3 separate regions of the Homo sapiens genome follow, and regions 1 and 2 are each linked to region 3. Evidence: fine-mapped expression QTL. A gene starts in region 3. Each other region holds a variant in brackets. All regions are shown on one strand. Distances are between the middles of the regions. Region 1 overlaps FAM149A (family with sequence similarity 149 member A). Region 2 overlaps FAM149A (family with sequence similarity 149 member A). Region 3 holds the start of FAM149A (family with sequence similarity 149 member A).

Region 1 (8,180 bases), 47 kb after region 3:
TTTGTAAGGGAAAATAAGATTTCTATTGAAGAACAGAAGTTGTTGATTATTAAACATCAGGAAGATATTTTGACTAGAGGAAGTAAATGTTTTAAGCGGTTCATTGAAAGGACATTTCAATGATTAACAGGAACTGTGCTACACCAGTTAGGCTTAATAGTTTATTTAACATCTAGATATTTCTTCTGTTTTAGTTCTTCATTAAATTTTAATATCTTCTAACTCTTGAAAACTCAGTATACCCACAAACAGCAATGCTAGATTAAAGCAAGTTAGGTGTCTGTGTGGCTTCTGAGTCTAAAGAATTTGATGTTTCTTAATTAATATGGGATTAATGATTTTTTTACTGGAGGAGTGGTTGGGTTTTGTAAGTAAGTCCCTTGTCCCTGGTCAAGGGACAACTGGGACCTGAAATCCCTGAAATACTGTGAACTGTTTGGGGCAACTTTTCCTTCTCTGGCTGAGTCACAAAAAGTTGATGTTGTCTTCAGTTCACATAAAGGTACATATAGGTTAATGGCAACCTTGATTTTAAGAAAAAGAAAAATGATGACATCCTAAGTCTCAGTTTCATCAGGATGGGGTGTGTGTGTGTGTGTGTGTGTGTGTGTGTGTGCGCTCATGCACAGGTGGGTTTGGAGGGATGTGGCAGAACGAGAGGAGCAACTTTGTATAAAAGAGAAATTTTAAAAGTCTTAATGAATAAAACTATATTATTACATTAGGGAGACTCGTCATGTTTTATTTTATTTCCAGAAGAGGACTGTCAGAAGGACGTAGAAGGCACGGTTTTACTGTGAGGAGCAAAGATTCTTTACCTACGCATTTTACAAGAAATGTGCAGAAAGCCATTGATAAATATACCTGGTAAGAATTCACCTTGCTTCAGATTACAAAATCACAAAATGCCCGTAACAAATGTGGGAAGGAAGTTAGTGACTGGCCATGAATTTCTAAAAGTAAGATGCAGTTTTATTTTTAACCTAGTGTAAACATCACACTGTAAAAATATTTCAAAATTAGTATACTGTGAAATTAATAAATATATTTAATGAAAGAAAGAGGAAGCAGGCTCAGAAAAGTGAAGCCACTTAGCCATCCAAGCCCTTCCAGCAAATGTGATTTCTTTGCTCATGTTCATTCCTGCAGCAAATCCTTGTCATCCTTTTCCTCCAGCGGAAGCCATACACCCACGGGAGCCCACACCTCTTGGTCTGGGTCGGCCACACAGAGCTCTACCACCGGCTCATCCACGGAGAGGGGCTCCGTTTATTCCTGGAGAGATGACGTATGTCTCAGAATATTTTGGATAATCTTGTAATTACAGTTTATAGTGAAGAGTTGCTTCCTTATATTCAAAATTATTTTTACCAATTATAAAAGCATGACCTATTGCATACATACATGTACATACATGTAAAAGCATGTACATGTTACATGTGAAAATAATAGATCACGAACCGTGGAGGAAAACAGAACTCCCTCGTGACCTTCTGGCCCCGTCTTAGCTGCCCGCAGTTTTCTTGTTTCCACCCTGCAGCCGGCTCTCCGGGTGTGTGCTCCTTGTGACTTCTTGGATGGTATCCATGGCCGGAAATTCAGGACTTGAATAAGAAAGAAATGCTGGAAAAGTAAAAGCTGTGGCAGCCACTGTGATTAGAGAACTCCCCGCCAGTATTCCCAGTCGGATATTTCACCTTCACCCCCTACCGCTGGGGGCGCTGTTGCCTCTGAACTGCTTTTGTCTGTGTGAGCCTGGGATTCTGGCTGGGCGAGCTCTGCCTCCACTGCTCCAGCTTGCTCAGGAGCTCACTGGCTCCAGTCTCCTCCCTCCCCCTCCCTCCAAGGGTCTCCGTGGATCCCAGGACACAGCCCTCCTTTTTAAGGCCCACCTGGCTGCAGCACCTTGGGTGTTCTGTTTTACCTCGTTTATGCTGGGTGTTTTGTTGTTGTTGTTGTTGTTTTTTGCTTGCTTGCTTTCTCTCTCTCTCTGTCTCTTTTTTTTTTTTTTTTTTTTTTTTGAGACGGAGTCTCGCTCTGTCGCCCAGGCTGGAGTGCAGGGGCGCGATCTCGGCTCACTGCAAGCTCCGCCTCCCGGGTTCACGCCATTCTCCTGCCTCAGCCTCCCGAGTAGCTGGGACCACAGGCGCCCACCACCACGCCCGGCTAATTTTTTGTATTTTTAATAGAGACGGGGTTTCACCGTGTTAGCCAGGATGGTCTCGATCTCCTGACCTCGTGATCCGCCCGTCTCGGCCTCCCAAAGTGCTGGGATTACAGGCGTGAGCCACCGCGTCCGGCCTTTTCTCTCTTTTTTTTTTTTAAGACAGAGTCTTGCTCTGTCACTCAAGCTGAGGTGCAGTGGTGCCATGTCGGCTCACTGCAACCTCCGCCTACCAGGTTCAAGCAATACTCCTGTCTCAGCCTCCCGAGTAGCTGGGATTACAAGTGTGCACCGCCATGCCCAGTTAATTTTTGTATTTTTAGTAGAGACGGTGTTTCACCATGTTGGCCAGGCTGGTTTCGAACTCCTGACGTTGTGATCCGCCTGCCTGGGCCTCCCATGGCATGAGCCACTGCGCCCAGCCTCTTTGCTTTCTTTAAAAGTGGTTCCCCACTCCCACTGCACATGGGAATCCGCTTCTGTCCGCAGCTGTGCAGCTGTGATTCTCAGGGGAGCCGGCAGGGCAGGTGCACCGAGGGGGTCTGAAAGGGACTCAGCTCAGCACTGCTAGGAGGACCTTTCACGCACGCAGCTCCCTTACTTAGGGGCAGCTGCCTCCTTCCTCTCCCTTACGCCCACTCACCACCATCCCTCAAGCCCGCCTTCCTTGGTAGAAGGCTGAGCACCACTGCTTTACTCTGTCCAAATTCTAGGATTCTTTTAGTACAACGTTTAATGGAATTACCAGGGAAATTCGTATAACTTCCATTAATACTCAGGCCTCACCCTAATAACCACACTTCTTAGGATAACTAAGGATTTTTTTTTCCAGTTCATTGATTTAAGGAGATTAATGGCCTTTTCTACAAAAGTAATTTTCTTTTCTGTGGTATCACCAGAAGAAAAAAAAATCTTGTATTTTGCAGGTGTGCTTAGGTGTGTCAGGCACAGCTCTGTGAGGAGCTGCCTGTGTTTGCAGACATACAGATGTGGACGTGTCTGTGTGTCTACGCTGATGTCTGTGGCAGTATGAACACGTCCATCTATACCTCTATCTATGCAAATTCTTGAGTCTCATAACTTCCGTGGCAGAAGTTTTCTCTATTTAACAGTAAAAGAATCCGAGGCTCAGAATGAGATGGCATTTCTCAG[A/G]AAGGTAACAGCTAGAGCACAGGTGTGTCTGACTGCAAAGCCACCATCTTTTTACCAAGTGATGCACCCTCCTACATAGTGGGTGACAGTAAATGTATAAGTAGCGTTGATCCAGAAGCCCGCAGTTCTGTAACTTGCAGTGTTGTAACCAAGTGTGCATTTCTGTTTAGGAATTTGACGAAGCCAGTTCACAGTCAGTGCAGCGGTTACTCTGGGAGGTGGAGGAAATGTTATTTGAAGGGAAAGTGAACCCTCAGACCCAGAGTCTGCTGGCCGAATGCGGGGAGTGGACAAGAAGATCCCTCCATTTGAGGTGGGACCTTGGTGGTGGAAGTTCTCTGGGGTGGGTTTTCCAAGCACCCACCCCTGACCTGCCTCGATACATTCAGTACATTTGGTGTGAAAGTGCCTGCCCAGTCAGAATATGGATGCAGAGCGCAGTCCTTCACTGAGAGATCACTTTCCTCTTACGGCGTCTGAGGAAATACTGAGACATTCCAGTACTCAAGCGCCTTTTAATTTGTGAGAAGCAAATTCAGGCCATCCTGAGAAGGGCATGACACATATACGAATGCAAGAATGGTGGAGGCCACCTCTTACCTTCACATTCACTGTGTGTGAGCAGCACATGTCTGTCTTCATCACAGAACACAGCGAGGGTGGGCAGAGATGATTTGCTGAACGGCTGGATAGATGGGTCTTCCCATCTCACCCATTCCTTATGTAGGGAGGAGCATGTGTTACTTTTCATATCAAAGATGGAGAATATGGATTGGGTATGAAGGCAAGCTTTTCTTTTCTTTTTGCTTTTTTTTTTTTTTTTTTTTTTTGAGATGGAGTCTTGCTCTGTCGCCCAGGCTGGAGTGCAGTGGCGCGATCTCAGCTCACTGCAATCTCAGCCTCCTTGGTTCACGCCATCCTCCTGCCTCAGCCTCCCGAGTAGCTGGGACTACAGGCACCTGCCACCACGCCCGGCTAATTTTTTTTATTTTTAGTAGAGACGGGGTTTCACCGTGTTAGCCAGGATGGTCTTGATCTCCTGAACTCGTGATCCGCCCGCCTCAGCCTCCCAAAGTGCTGGGATTACAGGCATGAGCCACCGCGCCCGGCCAAAGGCAAGCTTATCTTTCAGTCACTCAGCCAACGTACTGGGGGACAGTTTATCAAAGTTACCTGAGTTCCTGTGGATTCTGTCTGGGGAGAATGAATCAGAACACTCATGTAAATGTGGCTGGATTTCCTGGTTACATTCACTAGGTAACTTTTACAGAAATCTTGACCAACTAGGGTTGTTTTTTTTTTTCTTTTCAACCCTTAATAAGCCACCTGCCCTAAAGAGTATGATATGTCCACTAGATACTAGTTGTGGATACTCACTTTTCTGGGGATGATCACTCACCAGAAATTCGGGAGCTCACACTTATTCTTGTCACTGCTGTCTTACATCATTGATAGAAATGGAGGGAAGGTGGGAAAAGATTGTCAGGTACATAAGCCAAGTGTGCATATTTATATATTTGTATTCTTGTTATGTTTGTGTTTAACTGTGTATTAGTTAATATGTATGGAGGGCTTCTTTGTGCCCAGTGTTGCCTTAGACACCTGAGTCTGTCATATATGATCTCTAAGCCATTCATCAGCCCTGCAAGGTAACCATTATTATCCTGTTTTGCAAATGAAAGACAAACAAATGAAATTAGCCTGAGAACCTTGCCTGAGACTGAGTCAGTGGAAGAACAGTCTGGCCTAAACTCTCAAAGTCACACTTCTGTGATGCGTGATGCTTCCCACGTTCCCATACACATCTTATCATACACATGCCTTCAAAATCATTGTCTCCTACTTTTAAAATCTCCAAACATTTTCCCTTTGTCTGATCAAAAATGTCAGTAGCTTCTCTTTGACCTCGCAGAGTATTAGGAAGACAGCTGATCCTGCCCACTGACAAAGGCGTCCAGCATTTCCAGGGCAGCACTCCTGCCTCCGCAGTCCACAGACCCCCGCTCAGTGCCTGCGGACACAGCAGCAACATCAGAGAGTATGTTCAGATAAGTGACTCTCAAAAAGTATTGTTAGCTGTATTTTAGTTATACTTTTTCATGTTTATCTCATCTATAAGCCTTGGCTCCACCCATTTTGGAAATTTAGATTCTGATGAAGGGCAGGTACAGAGAACAATTTTTATAAGAAGCTTTTGATTCTGAATTGATGATAGGTGTATATGTGTGTATATAGAGAGATGTGTAATATATATATGGAACACACATGCACACACATGGTAGTTACCTTCCATGTTTGTTCCAAAGGCGCTGTGAAAGGTGGACTGGGTGCAGGATGGAAACCGCCTCACTGTGATGGATTATAAGCCTCCAGGCGGTGGCAGCAGGAGAAATGAAGCTCTGTCCTGTCGTTTCTGTTCACTAGCAGATTTTGATGACTCTATGCCATTCACACATATTTGGTGTGCCGTGACACAATGCAGTCCTTTCACTGCAACCAAAGAGGGTACAAACTCATAGAATAATTTAGGCTTTTAAGAAGCCCTTAAAATGTTTAATGATGCCTGTATTAAAGTGTTTTTAAGGACGTGAGTTTTGTCCAATGTAATATTCAACCGTTTTGGGAGGGGGGGATTCTGTACTTTACAGATAATTGAAAGATCCGCCATGATCGTTTAAGCATTGCGTTCTTGGTGTTCTATAAACTCCCATGTAGAATCTGTTTTTTTCCCATAGGTTGTGCATTTCTGGCTCTCAAATAGTCCCAGCAGCACTCTCAGCCTCTGCCCTGCCAGGCCCTGATGACACAGGGGTTGCTGACCTAACGGCACGTTCATCCCTGGAAGAAGAGGTTTACCATGTGGATGGAAAGATTGAGGAGTATTTCGCTTTTGACAGAAAAGAGGAGTAAATAGAATCTTATTTGACATTGACCTCATAAAATAATATTAATTTATTTGACATTTATTGTTATCGTATGCTCATTAAGTGTTTTGTGTATTTTTTACTCACCCAAAAGATTTCTGTTCTTTTGAGAGTAATGTACTCCCCAGAGCTTTTGGATTCCTAGCCAGCGGTGCACGTGCGGGAGCAGCGAAGAGGGTGTTCAGTGCCCTTGTAAAAGCAGACAAGGCTCCTCGCAGCCCTGGTCCTGGGGGCTCCAGGTTCCCCAGCCCTGGCTGCCCAAAAGGGCCTAAGGGGAGTTCCTGCCTCTGTACTAAATTCGTATTTTGTTCTTTTTTTTTTTTTGAGACGGAGTCTCGCTCTGTCGCCCAGGCTAGAGTGCAGCCGTGCGAGCTCGGCTGACTGCAAACTCCGCCTCCCGGGTTCACGCCATTCTCCTCCCTCAGCCTCCCGAGTAGCTGGAACTGCAGGCGCCCACCACCACGCCCGGATAATTTTTTGAATTTTTTTTTAGTAGAGACGGGGTTTCACCGTGTTAGCCAGGATGGTGTCGATCTCCTGACCTCGTGATCCTTCTGCCTCGGCCTCCCAAAGTGCTGGGATTACAGGCGTGAGCCACTGTGCCCAGCCTTGTATTTTGTTCTTAATCAAAAACTACAACTATTACATGATAAAACTTTGCCCCGTGATTGAAAATTGGCACATTAAAAAGTAACACTGATAAAACAAGTCTTAACACATTTGAGAAGACTGAAATCAAGCATCTTTTCTGATCTCAGTGGTACAAAACTGAAAGTCAATAACAGGAAGAAAACTAGAAAACTCACAAATATGTGTAAACTAAACAACCTGCTCCTCAACAACCAGGCAGTAGGTCAAAGAAGAAACCTAAAGGGAAATCAAAAAATATAATGAGACAAATTAAAATGGAAACACAACATATTAAAACCAAACTTATGGGGTACAGTAGAAGCAGCTCTAAAAGGGAAGCCTATGGCAATAAATGCCTACATTGAGAAAAAAGACATATCTGAAATAAACAACCTAACTTTATACTTGAAGGAATGAGAAAAAGAACAAACTAAGCCCAAACTTAGTAGAAGGAAGGAAATAACAAAGCTCAGAGCCGAAATAAATGAAGAGACTAGAAAAAAAAAGAAAGATCAATGAAACCAGGAGTTGGTTTCTTGTTTTTATTCATGTGTAATGGAAAAAAATTATATATGTTAAAAAAGAACGATGCTGTTTAACAAAGAATGTTTATTAATATATGTATACATGTACATACGTGAATGTGTGTAGATAGAATTATTTTAACTCTAAGCATTGATCTTTTAGTAATTGGAGTGGGTTTTTATTCTTAGTGATGATGAATGTCTTGAACAAAAACCAGCTCAGCCCGGTAGGAAATGGCGCAAACTCGGACTTCCTCCTGTTTCCCCGCGTGACTGTGTCAAAGATGCCGTGGCAGCAGAAGTGTTTGATCACGTCTGGACAAATATGGTAGAACTTTTGGAAGAGCTGATTAGAAAACACTGGGAAACTACACTCACAGGTACTTACATGCAGAATTTAGCTTAATGAAAAGAAAAAGTCCCTGTTCTTCGGCCCTGGGCTCCTGCTCCCCAGCTTGGCCAGACCTAGAACGTGACCAGTGAGAAGACAAGTGGGTGTTCTGACTTTACTCATGAGTGCTCTTTAGTCCCTTCAAAAAGGACGCTATTGTTTTTTGTGTTATAAAAAATAATGCAGGGCTGGCTGGGTGCGGTGGCTCACGCCTGTAATCCCAGCACTTTGGGAGGCCGAGGCAGGTAGATCACCTGAGGTCAGGAGTTCAAGACCAGCCTGGCCAACATGATGAAAGCCTACCTCTACTAAAAATACAAAAATTAGCCGGGCGTGGTGGTATGTGCCTGTAATCCCAGCTACTCGGGAGGCTGAGGCAGGAGAATTGCTTGAAC
Region 2 (8,180 bases), 37 kb after region 3:
ACGTCTCCTCAGTGTCCTCTGATCCGAGACAGTTTCTCAGACTTTCTTGTTTTGATGATCACGACAGTTTAGGGGAGTACTGGTCATGTGTTTTGTAGAAGGCCGCTCCGCTGGGGTTCGCCTTGTGTTTTTATCATGGTGAGACTGGGGTTATGGGTTTGGGGGGGAAGGCCACAGAAGGGAAGTGCCTTTCTCATTGCCTCATTGCAAGGGTGCGTGTCAACATGACACATCACGGATGGTGCCAGCCTTGACCACCTGGCTCCGGGAGTGCTTGTCAGGCTGCTCCCCTGTAAAGTCACCCCCTGCTTCCATACTGCACTCTTGGAGTCAAGCTTCCATACTGCACTCTTGGAGAAGAAGGTATGATGCCCGCCTCCTGGAAGGGGAGACACACACCACTGGGGTAGAGTTCTTCTGTGGGAAATGTGCCTCTTCTCCCCATTTATTTATTTATTTGTTTATTTCTATCAATATGGGCTCATAGAAATGTATTTTGTACTTTAGTTATAATCCGATAGCACATGATGTATTTTGTTACTCAGGTTGTTCTAGCTTTAGCCATTTGGGGCTCTTTCAGGATGGCTCCTGTGACATGCTCTCATTCTTCTGTTGTTTTGGTTTTTGTTTTTTGAGCACTTTCCTACAGTCTGGCAGTACAAGATGCTCCAGGTACATTTTATATTGCCCTGCCTCAGCCCCCAAATCGGCCACTCCTCCATGGAGCCCTGGTCCCTCTATTGGAGAATAGTATTTGGTGTGGTCTGAATGTTTGTATCCCCCAAAATTCATAGGTTGAAATCTCTCTCCAATGAAATGGTACTAAAGGTGGGGCCTTTAGGAGGCGATTAGGTCATGATTGCAAAGCCCTCGTGAGTGGGATTCATGCCTTTATGAAGGAGGCCCTGGGGGCTTCTTCACCCTTTTGGCCATGTGAAGACACAGCTGGAAGGCACCATCTAGGAAGCATGGAGCCGGCACCAGACACTGAATCTGCTACCACCTTGATCTTGGACTTCCCAGCCTTCAGACCTGTGGGAGATAGGTAATGGCAAAAACTGCAGTTACTTTTGCATCCACCTAATACGTTTCTGTTGTTTATAAGTCACCCAGTCTATGGTATTTTGTCATAGCAGCCCAGATGGACTAGGACAGTGTTAGGAACTAAGATCTAGGCACTGGAGGTGCTCATTGCTACTGGAGACAGCTCTATGGTATAGAGAGATGACATAGTTGTATGTATATGTTTGTATTTGCAAAGCAAGGCCACAGTTCTGATATGCACAAGTTTCAGTTTATATGATACCCATGTAAAGCCAGGACTGCTCGTACTGGATAAATGTAAAAAACTGTATGTAACTTTTGTGTATTATATTGCATAATATTAAAATGAACTGGTTTAATACTCCACCTAACAAAAAAAACCACTCTCAATGCTTTAAATGCTGAAAAAAGGAATAATTTACAATTTATTATGTATCTATATGCAGTTTCCAAAATTTGTCTCTAATTCACACAACTCTACAAGGAAGACAGTAATATTAGCCTTGTTTTAGCTAATTTCTGCTCACAGCATTAAGTTATCAGCTCAGGATTGCATGGCTAGGGCAAGACAGAGCCAGCACGTGAAATCAGGTCAATTTTTAGAGGAGTTGCTTATAATTTTTGGAATAACTTTATATCTTATATTACTAATTAATTTTCAGAGGGTGATCACATAATCACATATACCACTTTTTATTTTTATTTTTTGAGACAGTGTCTTGCTTCGTCACCCAGGCTGGAGTACTGCAGCCTCCATCTCCGGGGCTCTAAGTGATCCTCCCACTTCAGTCTCCCAATTAGCTGTGACTACAGATCCATGTGAACACACCTAGCTTTTTTTTTTTTTTTTTTTTTTTTGTAGAGACAACGTCTCATTATGTTGCCCAGGCTTGTTCTGAACTCCTGAGCTCAAGAGATCCTCCTGACTTGGCGTCCCAAGGTGCTGAGCCACTGTGCCCAGCCTATACCATTTTATTTTATCCTAATGAATTCGCCAAACTAGGCTAAGGGAGATCCTATTATTTTAGGAATTGAGGTCTCCCATTTAATGACTCTAATTACTGATCCCAGGGCCCCATGCCATTAAAATGTAAAACACTTAAACAATAAGATAGAAATAGTTATGTACTTTTCAATTCTCAATTAGGGTTTAAATAATCAATGAAAGATGGAAAATCGTATGGACTAAGTACAGGTAACATTGTATTAGGTTCTCCAGAGAAACAGAAGCAATAGGAGATACATGTCTACATCTATATTTGTATATATCTGTATAAAGAGATTTATTACAAGGATTTAGCTCATTGATTATGGAGGCTGACAAGTCACAAGGCCTTCAAGGTGAATGGCCAAGTTGGAGATCCAGGAGAGCCAGTGAAGTAGTTCTGATCCAACTTGCCAGCATCTGGTATTTTTAAGAATAGCCATTCTGACTGATGTGAGATGGTATCTCATTGTGGCTTTGATTTGCATTTCTCTAATGGTAAGTGATGTTGAACTTTGTTTTATGTGATTGTTGGCCACATGTATGTCTTCTTTTGAAAAGTGTCTGTTCATGTCCTCTGCCCACTTGTTTATGGGTTGTTTTTTTCTTGCAAATGTATTTTTAAGTTCCTTATAGATACTGGATATTAGACCTTTGTTGGATGCATGAAATATGTTATTGGTGTAAAATACACACTGGATTTCAAAACTTAGTACAAAAAAATTAAAAATATCTAATTACCAATTTTTATACAGATTACATGTTAAAATGATAATTTATATTAGATTAAAATATATCATTAAAATTAATTGTACCTGTTTCTTTTACTTTATAAATGTGGATACTAGAAAATTTAAAATTGTATGTATTTACATTATATTTCTACTGGGCAGTGGTGGTCTAAACCAATCCAACGTGAAGATTTTATCACTTTAATCTTTAAGCAAGCAGCATAGCTTTAGGTTTTGAAATTTGAGAGAAGAGACAAATGAATTAAGGAACTGTTCAGGTTTTGAACAGAAGTCATAAGAAATATAGAAGTCAAGACTTGCTGGGTTTGTGAAACTTTGACCATCACAGTCTCTCTGGGCAAAACTGAAAAATGGCCTCTGTGCAAAGATCAAATCCTAGGCAGGGGTAAAGGTGAAATCAAAGGTTTGGCTTAACAAGACGTCAGATTTAGGGGTGTCTCATAGATCCCCAAGATAATAGGGCTTTAAAAAATCATAAGAGAATTGGCCCCCGGCAGTCTCAAAGGTGGACCAAGGGCCCATCTCAGGTCAGTGTGGTTTGTAACTAATGGATGGGGTGAACTCTGATAAAATTCAAAGAAACCCACAAGGTATTGGCAGAGTGATGGAAGCGCCACTGGCTTGAACTAAAAGAGGCACAGACTTTTGGACCCCCTTCCCCAGCCTTCCCTGGAGGAAAGCAGGCTGAGAGGCTACTTAGTTGCAAACCTAGGCCATTTCTTTTCCCTGAGGAAGTCTCGGTAGAAGCAACAGCCCAGAGGACAGAGCTAAGGGCTGGGGAGAAGGCAGGAAGCAGAAGTGAGTCCTCCTCAAGGCAAGGCAGCAGGAGCCTGCTGGAACCCGCAGTGGCTGCTGCCTGGCTCCGCCACCTCTCTTGTTGGACAGGTGCCCACTGGGGATGTCCTGGCTCTGTCTCACCATTGTCGGTTGGGTGTGGAGAAGGCTGTTGCCTTGTCTCTCTAGTTCGCAGGTCTTCAGATGTAAAGGAAATACCCAAGCAGAAGCCTCATCTGTACGCGGACATGCTTTAGATGATGAGACTTCTGAGCATCTTGAAAGAGCTGAGTGTATCGTGCATGTGTAAATGACCTGTGGCCAGAGGACGGTTATGGCGGATTAAAGACGGCTGTAGGTTCTTCCCATTGAGAGCTGGGGTCTATTTTCCATCTCTTTCATTCTGGGACTGCTTTGATTATGGAGTACAGTGGAGGTGACACTGCCAGTTGCCACCTTGAATAGAGCTGACGGCTTCTGCCTCGCTTTCTTGGAGCCCTAAGCTGCCACGTAGAAATTCCAACGACTTCACTGGAGGGACCACTCAGAGAAGTGTTGAAGCTGCATGAGAGAAGGCTCAACTGAGCCCAGACTTCCAGCCACCCCCGACTGCATGGTGTAGACACATGAGTGAAGCCTTCTTAGAGCCTCCACACCAGACCACCCTCCACCTGTATGCCACTGAGCAACCCCACGGGGAGCAGAAGAAACACTCAACCTGCCGCAATTCCTGAGTTCTGTGGATTATGAGCATAACAACATGACTGTTGATTTAATCTACATTTGGGGTGGTTTGTTATGGGGTAATAGATATCTGGGACACATTCACACATATACATCCTAGCTGTGTGACCTCGAACATGTTACTTAAGGTCTCTGACATCAGTATTTTTATCAACAAAATTGTAATAATAGTGTCTACCTACTATGGGTGTTAAATATATGTAAGAATATATGTAAAATAATATATATAAAAGTAAAAGCAGCTAGCATATGTTTGGATCTTAAATGACTTTGTGTTCGATTTTTACTTTTTTTTTTTTTTTTTTTTTTTTTGAGACAAGAGTCTTGCTGTCTTGCCCAGGCTGGTCTTGAACTCCTGGGCTCTAGTGATCCTCCCATCTTGGCCTCTCAAAACACTGCGGTTACAGGTGGGAGCCATCACACCAGACTCCTTTCTTTTGTTTCCCTGGCATGCCCATCCTCCCACCCCTGGCAATATAAATAATATCAGCAAGTCTGTGTGGGCTTAAGATACCATAGTTTTCCTGATAGATAT[G/GGA]TATACACATACACACACATCACACATATACACATATACATGTATCAGGATTTAAAATCTCATTAATTTTATAATTTATAACCACTTACCACTTTTATAAAAGTGGGGAGGATTCCAGTGTTCTTAGTTCAACAATGGATTACTGTTTTGTTTGTGTTTGTTTTTTTGAGACAGAGTCTCCCTCTGTCGCCCAGCCTGGAGTGGGTGGGGCGATCTCCGCCTCCCAGGTTGAAGTGATTCTCATGCCTCAGCCTCCTGAGTAGCTGGAATTACAGGCACGCACCACCACACCCAGCTAATTTTTGTATTTTTAGTAGAGACTGGGGTTTCACCATGTTGGCCAGGCTGGTCTTGAACTCCTGATCTCAAGTGATCCGCCCACCTCAGCCTTCCAAAGTGCTGGGATTACAGGCGTGAGCCACCCTGGCTGGACTACTGTTTTTGTTATTGGTAGTGATTTCTTGTCACCGTGCTAGGGTGGTGCATCAGAAATAAACTGGGCTTTTTAGTAAAAACTCGGAAATACATGGTTTACCTCTGTAAATACGGGATACTTGGCAGGAGAAATTGTACCTGTTGAAACTTAGATGGCCTCAGCTCTCAAAAGAGACTGGCTACGGCAGGACGGGGATGAGTGTTGTACCGGCACCCAGTGCACTAACTGTCATTACTAAAATCCCTGTCGTGGGAAAGGCATGCCTCGTGCAGTGCCCACCCTCTGAGACTCAAAAATGTAGTTCACCTCCGCGACCTCACCCCTTCTTCCCTTAGCATGTGAAAATGACGGCTTGGCAGTTTCACCAGCTCACAGGAGAGCGTCCAGCTGCTCTGCTCCTGGTATAATCCTGGGCCTCCAAAACTGAAACGAGCACATGGTAACGCAAGCGGCAGGCATGCTCGGGGTGTGCAGGAGATGCACCGGCTTGTGTGAGCCGGTAGGGCAGGACGGGCGTGGAAGGGTCCACGTCTTTAGTATGCATGCTTAGATCTAGCGTTCCTGTTGATGGAGTAATGGTTCTCGCATTGACCAGATCCGGGGCTTCATTTTTTAAACCTCATTCGTCCACTCCCCACCCCAGCCTGGTGTGCGCACCCTTTGATGGGGCGGGGATAGGCGAGATGGTCCTGTGGTTCTCTGCCTTCTTCTGGTGAATTAAAATCCGATTTGGAAGAGAGAAGGGCAGCCAGCACCAGTATGCACAGCCCCCGGCCCCAGAGACCCGGGAAGGAGTAGGGAGGCCGGGCCGTGCGCGGAGGAGTGGCCGCTGGGTTGGAAACCCGGCCCGGCAGGGAGCGGGGAAGGCGCGCTTTCCCGGAGGTCGGCGCGGGGCCGGGGCCGGGGCCGGGGCCCGGAGCGGGGATGGGCGGGCGCAGCCGGGATTAGCTGGCGGGCGAGGGCGCAGCGCAGGGAGGAGGAGGGGAGGCGGCGCCGGCGCGGGCGGGGCGGAGGATCTGGAGAGGGAAGGGGCGTGCGAGCCCCGCGGACCCCGGGCGCGCCCGGGCCGCCTGAGCTGGGCCAGCCGCGCGGCGGGCGCGGGCGCGGGCGCGGGCGCGGGCGCGGGCGGGTGGGGAGCCCCAGCCCCGGGGCCGCGGGGGCGCGTGACCGGCTGTCTGCGTGGGGCCCGCGCGCGGTGCCTCTGCCTGACGGTGCCCGAGCCTAGCGCGGAGCCTGGCGCGGGGGCTGCGAGCACAGGCCCGGGGCTGATCGTAATCGGGTGAGTCTCATCCGGCAGCAGGGCTCGCCTTCTGGCCGCTCTGCAGGCGATGTGCGCGGTGTTCTCCGCCCGCGGGCCGGCTGCGTCTGGCCCGGGCTTCCCTGCAGGCACTCGGGAAGCGTCAGGCCGGCCCCGGGCATGGCTCACGCGGGGAAGCGTTCGCCGCCAAAGGGACTCCTTCGTCACTGCGGTCGCTCCTGGGACTTGCTGGTGTTGGGTCAGGGCGGTGTGAGTGTTCCGTGCTGAGGAGCGGCTTCCCATGGCCACCCTGGAGTGCCCCTGTGTGTCCCCCCATCCAGAAAACCAGCCTGCATTTTAACCCGTTCAGAGTACAGTGCTTATGTCAGACAGTCCTGTCAACTAGGAATAGAAAATTTTGAAAGCTGCTGTCACTGACATTAGAATTTCTACAAAGCAGTGTGGCAGAGGTTTGTGGGCTGTCAAGAAGCAACCTAAAACAGTAACTCTGGATGATGATTTTCCTGACAGCTGGAATGGAGTCATGGAGATTGGAACTCACCCTTAACCTCCATGCGCCAACAAATGAGTGCAGTCTAGTTTAGTGACTGCACTTCAGTCCACCCTACGAAGACCTGTCCCCAAATCAACAGCCTTGCTCTATTTAAACAGTATGGACAGGAACTAGTATAGAACTTGCATGTCTATGTTTAGAAGCTTCATGGACATGCCACCATATTCAAGTTTTAAAATACCTGTGGGATGCATCCTGTAAGTTGTGTACACTTTCTTAGACTGTGTAGGATACAGAACTAGTCCATAGTTTATAGGGGATTAAAGAGGTTCAACATTATGCATGAGGGACCAGTAACCAATCCTTGGTTAGAGAACAGAGAAACCAAAGAACCAAAACAAGATGTGAAAGAGAAAAAAAAAAAGAAAAAGACAAGAAAGGGATTTTGTAGGCTCTGCTGTTAATTCATGATGTTAGTAACTTGTGCCACTGGAGAGACAGGCAGGTCAGTGGCCTGGTTCCTCGAAGAAACTCTGTCCCTATCTTCTTTGTGCTCTTGGGCAATCATTGAGTTACGGACTTAAATTCCTGTTCACCTCGTTTTTTTGTGAATTGTGTGGTCAAGTTTGTATGTTATTACACTGAACTCTGAAGCTCAAGAAATTGCTTAAAAGGAGATACAGAGGGGAAGGTCAGAGAGGAAAAAAGAGGGAGAAATGGCATGGAGTAGGGGAGTTTTAAGGCACCTAATTCGTAATAATTGGTGTGACTGTTACCCAACTTCCCATTTCCCCCTGCCCTGCATCCCAAGACCTCCTGGGCTCAGCTCTGCGTCCAAGACAGTGGGAAGCCTGGTCCTGGAAAGGATGTGGTGTGATGTGAAGAGAGATGAGTTCCTCCGTTTTGTAAATAATTTTCTCCTTAATTTGAAAAGAGCTTCCACCCTTTCCCCTGAAAAAGAGTGAATTTCCTAGAGGAATAAATTATTCATTGAAACAAACTCGCATGCGTCCCATTTTGAATTTGGCTTCAAAGTTGCACAAAAGCAGGAGGAGGAGCTAGAAGCAGGATAGACCGTCTTGAGCAGAGCAGATGCTCCGTTTGGCGGTGAAAACCATTTGGGGGAATATCAGCTGCCCAAAGAAGAGCTGTGACTTTT
Region 3 (8,180 bases):
GAGGAGTCATCCCTGCCTCTTCTTAGCGTCTGGTAGTGGCCATCAGCCTGGAGCACCCTTCGGCTTGCAGCTGCTTCACTCCAGCCTCTGCCTCTGTCATCCTGTGGTGCTCCCCCTGTGTGTCTGTGCCCACATCTCCCTCTTCTTAAGAGTATACGCATCGTACTGGACAAGGACCCATCCTACTGACCTCAGCTTAACTTGATTACATCTGTGAAGATCCTATTTCCAAATAAGATCACATTCACAAGAACTGGGGGTGGGACTTCAACACATCTTCTGGGGGCACACAACTCAAATGTGCCCACAGCTGGGACACATGCAGACACACCTTAGAGACAGAATGCTTTCAAGGCCAGGATCTGGAAGGGTATGCAGCTGTTCTCTAGCTTTATTTATTATTATTATTATTATTATTATTATTATTATTATTATTATTATTTGAGACGGAGTTTCGCTCTTCTTGCCCAGGCTGGAGTGCAATGGCACGATCTTGACTCACCGCAACATCCGCTTCCTGGGTCCAAGCGATTCCCCTGCCTCAGCCTCCCAAGTAGCTGGGATTACAGGGACCCGGCACCACACCCAGCTAATTTTTGTATTTGTAGTAGAGATGGGGTTTCTCCATGTTGGTCAGGCGGGTCTTGACCTCCCGACTTCAAGTGATCTGCCTGCCTCAGCCTCCCAAAGTGCTTGTCCATAGAAGAGAAGTGGTTATTGAGGGAAACATGGAAAGATCTAGAACCAGAGAGCCCAAGACAGCGGCATGAATGCACCACTGTTCAGGAACAGTTGCTCCTGAAGGAGAAGGGTGCTGGACTCTAATGGTTAATGCCCCCTGTATGTGAACCATATGATTCCTTCCCTTTGCTTTGATTCCACACTCACCTAACAACCATTGGAATTAATTTGGTCCTAAAGGGATTCCTCTTATGGGGAAAGAGCAGAGGATGGAACACTGCATCAGTGCTTTTTTTTTTTTTTTTTTTTTGAGACGGAGTCTCGCATTGTCACCCAGGCTGGAGTGCAGTGGCGAGATCTTGGCTCACTGCAAGCTCCACCTCCCAGGTTCACGCCATTCTCCTGCCTCAGCCTCCCGAGTAGCTGGGACTACAGGCGCCCACCACCACACCCGGCTAATTTTTTGTATTTTTAGTAGAGACAGGGTTTCACCGTGTTAGCCAGGATAGTCTCGATCTCCTGACCTCCTCCGCCCGCTCGGCCTCCCAAAGTGCTGGGATTACAGGCGTGAGCCACCGCACCCGGCCGCATCAGTGCTTTGTGAGTCAGATTAGTGGGGCTCCACACAGAGACACTGGTCAGCTGTGAAGGTGCTGGGCCCATCAGATTTCTGAGTCTGAAATATCAGGAATCCTGAGTTCTGGCAGCAAACAAGTGCTACCCCCAAGGATCTAGGTGAGCTGACTCGAACTTTGCTCCACAATGGCCCTCCCTTGCTGTTATTTCAAGTTCCATATGTTCAGATTCAATGGAGCGACTAGCCCCTTACTCACTGAAAGCACATACTCTAGAAATAACTTCTATTTGCATTGAAAGTGACCTGATATATTAAGGATTTAATTACTCCATGAATCAGAATAAGATCCTTGTAAGATGAACAAAATCTGTGGGAAACTGCTTTGCAGTCCTGAATGAGTGCTACATGAAAACAGTCCAGTGTTCGGAGGGAACGTCCAGACTTCTGAGGCTACCTGGTGAGTGCTGCAGAAGGGGAACAAGGGAGCACGAGAAAAGTTCATGGTTCAACAGCAGCCTGTTCCTGGTGTCTCTGCGTTGTGACGGAGTTGGCACTGCTTCCCTGGTTTGCCCCCAACCCTCTCCCTCTTGTTACCATTGCTGCTCTCAGAGGTGTCTGTTCTTAATTCCCTTTTTCTCTCATTTTGATTCTTCGCTGTGTGCTGGTGCTTCACACGCTGACGACTGCGTGCTCTCGCCTCTCCGAACATCCAAGGGCCTTTAAAATCTCACCCTAGTCACCCATGTCTCTTACTTCCCTTAGGCACACAAATGCTCTGCTGTCCCCAAGCGAATGTTGACCACGATGGCTGCCATCACCTGTGCTTGTCTTCCAGGGCACTCACGGGACACTCAGCATATGACGTGAAGCAGATTATTCCATGCTCTGGGAAGAGAACCGCTCTTTCTTTGCATGTCTGTGCTTAATGCAATCTTGAAGCAGACAAGTGCCCAGTACATGTTGGTGGCAGTTAGATGTAGAAAAGGGATCATGACAGAAGACTTGTTAACTGCCTCCAAATAACGCAAAACTTAGCATTACCTGGAAGTTTACCGTGGCTCAGACTCCAGTTTGATAACTTACAAAAGATTCAAGTATATAAGCATGAATGTCAGTTTATTCACTGCCAGACTTAATTCATCTCTTTTCCCTACCCCACATCAGGAAATGTATCTCCTGAGATCCTCTCCTGAATATTAATGGACAAACTCCATCAATATCTCATTACTATTTTTTTGACACAGGGTCTCACTCTACTGCCCAGGCTGGAATGCAGTGGTGCGATCACGGCTCACTCCAGGCCCAAGCGATCACCTCAGCCTCCCGAGTACCTGGGACTACAGGCATGCGCCACCAGGCCCGGCATTTTTTTTTTTTTTAAATATTTGTAGAGATGGGGTCTCCCTATGTTGTTGCCCAGGCTGGCCTGGAACTCCTGGGCTCAAGCCATCCTCCCACCTCCCAATCCCGGTGCTGGGATTACAGGTATGAGCCACCGAGCCTGGCTGCAGTATCTTATTTTTTAACTCTGTTCAACACTGACCCCACACCCCTTTAGATGCTCGCACCTATACGCTCTACCTTTCACACATATTTTTCAGATTAAGCAAAATACAATTTATTCCACTGAATAGAAAACGTTGCCTTCCATATCTGTCTTTGAATTTGTAGTCGTTCCGATTATAATTTGAGTTCTCAAACATTTGAATTACACAGTCTCTTGGTTCACTCCGACAGGTGTTTAAACAGGTGTGCGTAGGTCTTTCTACTTCAGCTCTCAGAGCCGGTCTTGTTTGCAGGTTAGTGGGTGGCGCACCTCGCGGTTGCTCCCACCCCACCCTTAGTAACAGGGTTTGAGTAGGACCCTGGGGTGGGGGAGTGGATGCTGCTGTTTCAAGCTCGTTCGCCCAAATACATCTTTCTACCCACCTTCCCTATCGTCAGAGAGGTGGCCTGACCCCAGCACGTGCAAGCTTGTCAGGCTGGGTAAGTTCCAGAACCTTCTGGAGCCAGGATTCTCTTTCCCAGCCCTGGGCCCTGAGCTCGGCGGATGGGATCTGCGAGGCTCGGGGCGCAGGGGAAATGGGGGCGTGTTCCTTTAAGGCGGAACCAGGCGGGGAGTGGGACGTCCCCCGCGGGCACAGCCCGAGCCGCACCTGGGGCCCAATTAGCCTGGAGCGCGGCCGGGTGTGTTGAACGTAGCAACCGCGGGCGGCGGGCGGCGGGCGGCGGGCGTCTGGGGCGGGCGGCGGCCGCGCTTCCCGGGGCTCCTGGCCCTTCGGCCCTCGGGGGTCTCACGGCGCTGGGACGAGGCGGGGCTGCTCTCCGCAGCCGGGGCGCTCGGCGGACGGACCCGGGCCGGGGAAGGGCGACCCCAGCGGCGCGGAGCTGAGCGTCCTCGGGGAGGAGAGGGAGCCAGGGGCCTCCGGGGCTCCGGGTGCGGGGACCTCAGGCTCCTCGCCCCGGCCCGGGCCGCCTCGGCCGGATCTCCGCGGTCTGAACTCTCGGGCGGCGGCGAGGACGGCGTGTCCACTGTCGAGGCATGAAGGCTGCTGTGCTGGACCTTGGGTCTCTCTTGGCCAAACTCTTCGAGACCTCGACGGCGCCCCCCGCAGGCCCCTCCTCCAGACCCTCGGGAGGTGCTGCCGCTGCAGGGTCGGGGGGCTCCAGGGCGGGCACCCCGTTGGGTACCGCCCCGACCCTCCTCCGCGCCCTGGCTCCGGACTCCCCCTCCGCCTCGCGGCGGTCGCCCGCCCCGCTGCTCTCCTCCCCCTACTCCCGGGGCTCCGCCGCCAGCCGCGCCGCGGGAGCAGTGGGGACCCTGCTCTCTTGGCCCAGTAGCCCTAGAGCGGGTAAAGCCCCGCCCCAGCCCCCCACTCCCTCCGGCGGGGGCTGCTCCCCTGCTCGCCTGGTGGTCCCAGCGCGGCCGCCCTCGGGCCCCGGCGGGGTCTGGGCCGCGCTCCCCAGGAACCCGCTCCAGCCTGGCCCCGGAGAGCGAGAGCTCGGCGCCTGCGTGGCCCCCGGGGCTGGCCCCAGAACCCTGTTCCTTACGCTGCCTGACATCGGCGAGGAGGGGGCCTCGGACGGCGACTCCGGGGATGGCGAAGCGTGAGTAGCAGCGTGGTCCGGGCGCGTGTACCTTTTGCCGGGACCCCCGACCCCTCCGCCTGCCGCACTCACCTTCGCAGGTGCACTTCAGGAAATGAAATATTTGTAGTAACTTTCATAACCCCCTGGGCACCCTCCTTGCACGTTTCCTGGGTTTTTACTCCTTGGCTTTGCGGGCTTTCAGACATAAGCTGTGACATGCTTTGTCCAGCTTTCTCAGAGTGAATCCTAAGGGGCCTTGAAGGAAGGGACAGAATTTTGTTTCTCTTCTACCAGAAGCATTGCTACTTAGAGTGTTTGTTTGGTTTTCTTAAGGACTTTTTGAAGTCCCTTTCTTTGTCTCAGAATATAGCAGGTGTGCAGGGAAACCGAATACACACGTCTGCAGCAAGTGTTTTAAGAAGTGGTGAGACCTGGTGCTTTCCTAATGTCTAAGGACCAGTCCCTAGTCTTATCCTAAGTGGGATGGGTCTCCTTTGTGTGACATCTAGTTAATTTACATATGCATGACATCATCTGACACAAATGGAGTTGTAATGGCCAGGACACGTCTGATTATTACCCTAGAGCTCCTGAGAGCTTTCCACAGTGCCCTGAGTCACTGCAGAAACGTTGACTTCATGGGAACATTTTCACTGGGAATCGGAGGCCGATTCCCTCAACACACACACACCCACACAACACCCCTTTCACTTCCAAGAGTCGTGATAAAAACATTGCTCTTTTAAAATGTGTTTTAGAACTAGGATGAATTTTAATTTTTAGAGTGGAGCATATCGTTAGCTATTCTTGAGTGGGTAAATTTTCATCCTGAATGCTGCAAAGAAATAGTGAAATGGTCAAAGACAGATGAGCCAATTCACAGACTGAGGTTTCTGCATTGTAATCTAGTGAGGCCATTCCCTACTCCCTCCAAAAAATCCTGAGTAATTTTTGCATTCATACTGATCCTGACTCACTCACAATTTAAATAATTACAGTTTCACAAAATTGAATGATATTCATGTCAATATGAAAACAAGCGGCCGGGCACGGTGGCTCACGCCTGTAATCCCAGCACTTTGGGAGGCCGAGGCGGGCGGATCATGAGGTCAGGAGATCGAGACCATCCTGGCTAACACGATGAAACCCCGTCTCTACTAAAAATACAAAAAATTAGCCGGGCGTGGTGGTACGTGCCTGTAGTCCCAGCTACTCGGAAGGCTGAGGCAAGAGGATGATGGCGTGAACCCGGGAGGCGGAGCTTGCAGTGAGCCAAGATCGCACCATTGCGCTCCAACCTGGGCGACAGAGAGAGAGACTCCGTCTCAAAAAAACAACAACAAAAAAGAAAATAAGCAGTTAAGCAAAAAGTTGTTCCCACTCATTAAAAAATACTATATTATGACATATGTTTATCAACTGATAGTTTTCCCTATCAGTTAATTGCTTTTGGAAAACTCACTGGAATACATATGCCTGAGGAATTAGATCTTTGTTATTGGCAACTGGTCCTTAACATTTATGCAATTAATGTTTTATGAGCAAACAGATCTACACACTGACCTTAAACTCTAGTCTTAGTGCTTTTAACAAATAGGCACTGAAATATGCAGCATGGCCAGTGAAACTGGTGTTAGTTTCAATTCTTGAACATATTAGCTCATGTTTATATTGTGCAAATATTTGGAATAGATACTTTTTGAATAACACTGCATTTGGCATTATTTACATAAGAGATTATTCTGAATTAACAAATGCATTCAATTTTATGGACAGTGAAGAAATTGAATTTTTAAATTATTATTACTTTTTGAGATGAGGTCTCCTTCTGTCACCCAGGTTGGAGTGCAGTGGTATGATCACTGTTCATTGCAGCCTCAACCTCCCAGGCTCAAGCGATCTGATTCTCCCGTCTCAGACTCTCGAGTAGCTGGGACTACAGGTGTGAGCTACTATGCCTGGCCAATTTTAAAAATGTTTCTGTGGAGACGGGGTCTCCCTATGTTGCCCAGGCTGGTCTTGAACTCCTGGCCTCAAGCAATCTTCCCACCTGGGCATTGCTGGGATTACAGGCATGAGCCACTGCATCTGGCCATGAAATTGAATTTTAGGTAAGTGCCATGAGAAGTAATATACACAGCTAGGTGCTTTGCAGAATCCTCCTGAGTTTGTGTGTTCCTACTGTCTGCAGCAGCAGGTAGAGGCACACACAGGCAGGAAGCAGACTGGCCCTCTGAGCATACCATTTTTCCTTTCAGATCCACGACTACTCACATTCCCTTCCTCTCATCATACCCCACTCCTTTTTCAATCACTAAAACATAAGAGACAAAGGGGAAGGAAGAAAGTATTAAGACGGCTTTTCTTTCAATACTGCAGACTTTGCACCTTGAAGGATTCTTTTTCCCTCCTGGATTTCTGTGGTAGTGATTTATAACACCGAATAAACAAACATAAGACAATGAATTTAAATTTGCTCCTACCATCTCATCTGTCACTTGGCAGATAGCTGCTGCTGTTAGCCTGTGTGGTTAATATTAAAATCAGGAATTTAAATTTCAAAAGCCTGGAAACTTGGAAAGGGAGAAATGGGTAATGTCAGAGAAAAAGTTTAAAGAGTGATGAGAATGTGAATACATATAAAGGAAACCGTAAACCTGTCTGCAAGAAATGCGGATCTAATTTTAAAGCTGTGGCCCTGAGTTCTAAAGGAAAACCCTATTAGCAGTTTGTACTTTTTTGACAATAACGCATACATTTTACATTTGCCTGATTCTGTACTTGGCTTTAAAAAAAAAAAACAAAAAACTAAAAGTAGTGAAATTAACTTGAGTAGGAAAATATGCAAACTCTCCTGCAATTTAGAGGCTTTTTTCCAAGCAAAGATGCTGAATAGCAGCAGGGGTTTTTAATCTCTGACCCAAGAATTCCGTAAGTGAAAGGCCCATGGAACAGAGGCTGCCCCTTTTGCTCCACAGGGCGTACTGACTGCACATCTGAGCCAGAGGCAGAGGATACTGATCTCTCTGTCTTCACCTCACTTTCCTGCATCCCTGGATACGTGATCCAACACCTTTGATCTTCACCTTGGCTTCCCTGTCCATTTCATGTATATATTATGCCTCAGTGTTTTTCAGTCTCACTCATCCCTCTTCATTACCTCTTTTCATACTTCTGGTTTGAACCACACAATACACCTTGTAAAGGTCTTATTCTCAATCTCTGGTTTTTTTTTTTTTTTGAGACGGAGTCTTGCTCTGTCGCCCAGGCTGGAGTGCAGTGGCGCGATCTCGGCTCACTGCAAGCTCCGCCTCCTGGGTTCACGCCATTCTCCTGCCTCAGCCTCCCGAGTAGCTGGGACTGCAGGTGCCTGCCACCACGCCCGGCTAATTTTTTGTATTTTTAGTAGAGAAGGGGTTTCACCATGTTAGCCAGGATGGTCTCGATCTCCTGACCTTGTAATTTGCCCGCCTCGGCCTCCCGAAGTGCTGGGATTACAGGCTTGAGCCACCGCGCCCGGCCGGTCTTATTCTCTTATTTGTTCTGCAAATGTAAGAATTCCTAGCAATACGTAAGGTGGATAGATAGATAATTGCTGTGTATGAATGTTGGTAGAGTGTAAACTTCTAGTCAGGAAGTATTTATAGCTTGTATAAGTCATAGTTATTAGCAAGCATATATTCACTCTTTTTTTTTTTGAGTGATTGAGTTCCATTGTTAAAATCACATTACTGTGGAAACATTGCAGTGGCTGCTTGAAGGGCCTGTCAGCATGGCTGGCAGTAAAGTGACTAGAGGGACTTATCTCGATTCCTCTGACACTGAGGCAGCC

Evidence for each region. PIP is the estimated chance that this variant, and not a neighbour inherited with it, causes the effect.
Region 1: its variant is fine-mapped to the expression of FAM149A in skeletal muscle (GTEx, PIP 0.98).
Region 2: its variant is fine-mapped to the expression of FAM149A in adrenal gland (GTEx, PIP above 0.99).

Annotation. Positions count from the first base shown.
Region 1 is chr4:186,148,417-186,156,596 of GRCh38, forward strand. It overlaps FAM149A (family with sequence similarity 149 member A), which reads left to right. Exons shown (of 14, transcript NM_001395294.1): 2 at 757-867; 3 at 1,150-1,288; 4 at 3,487-3,629; 5 at 5,229-5,354; 6 at 6,052-6,222; 7 at 7,584-7,774. Among named protein-coding and RNA genes, the nearest start is that of FLJ38576, 39 kb to the right of the region's middle. RefSeq lists an enhancer at 304-1,503 and a silencer at 1,522-1,717. The variant A/G (reference allele first, on the strand shown) is at 3,317.
Region 2 is chr4:186,138,564-186,146,743 of GRCh38, forward strand. The region is part of intron 1 of FAM149A (family with sequence similarity 149 member A); the gene reads left to right. Among named protein-coding and RNA genes, the nearest start is that of FAM149A, 38 kb to the left of the region's middle. RefSeq lists enhancers at 5,189-5,689, 5,690-6,190. The variant G/GGA (reference allele first, on the strand shown) is at 4,835.
Region 3 is chr4:186,101,277-186,109,456 of GRCh38, forward strand. It overlaps FAM149A (family with sequence similarity 149 member A), which reads left to right and starts at 3,428. Exons shown (of 14, transcript NM_001395294.1): 1 at 3,428-4,366. The coding sequence starts at 3,801. It overlaps LOC124900171 (a long non-coding RNA gene), which reads left to right and starts at 6,418. Exons shown (of 2, transcript XR_007058421.1): 1 at 6,418-6,459. RefSeq lists a silencer at 3,348-3,407.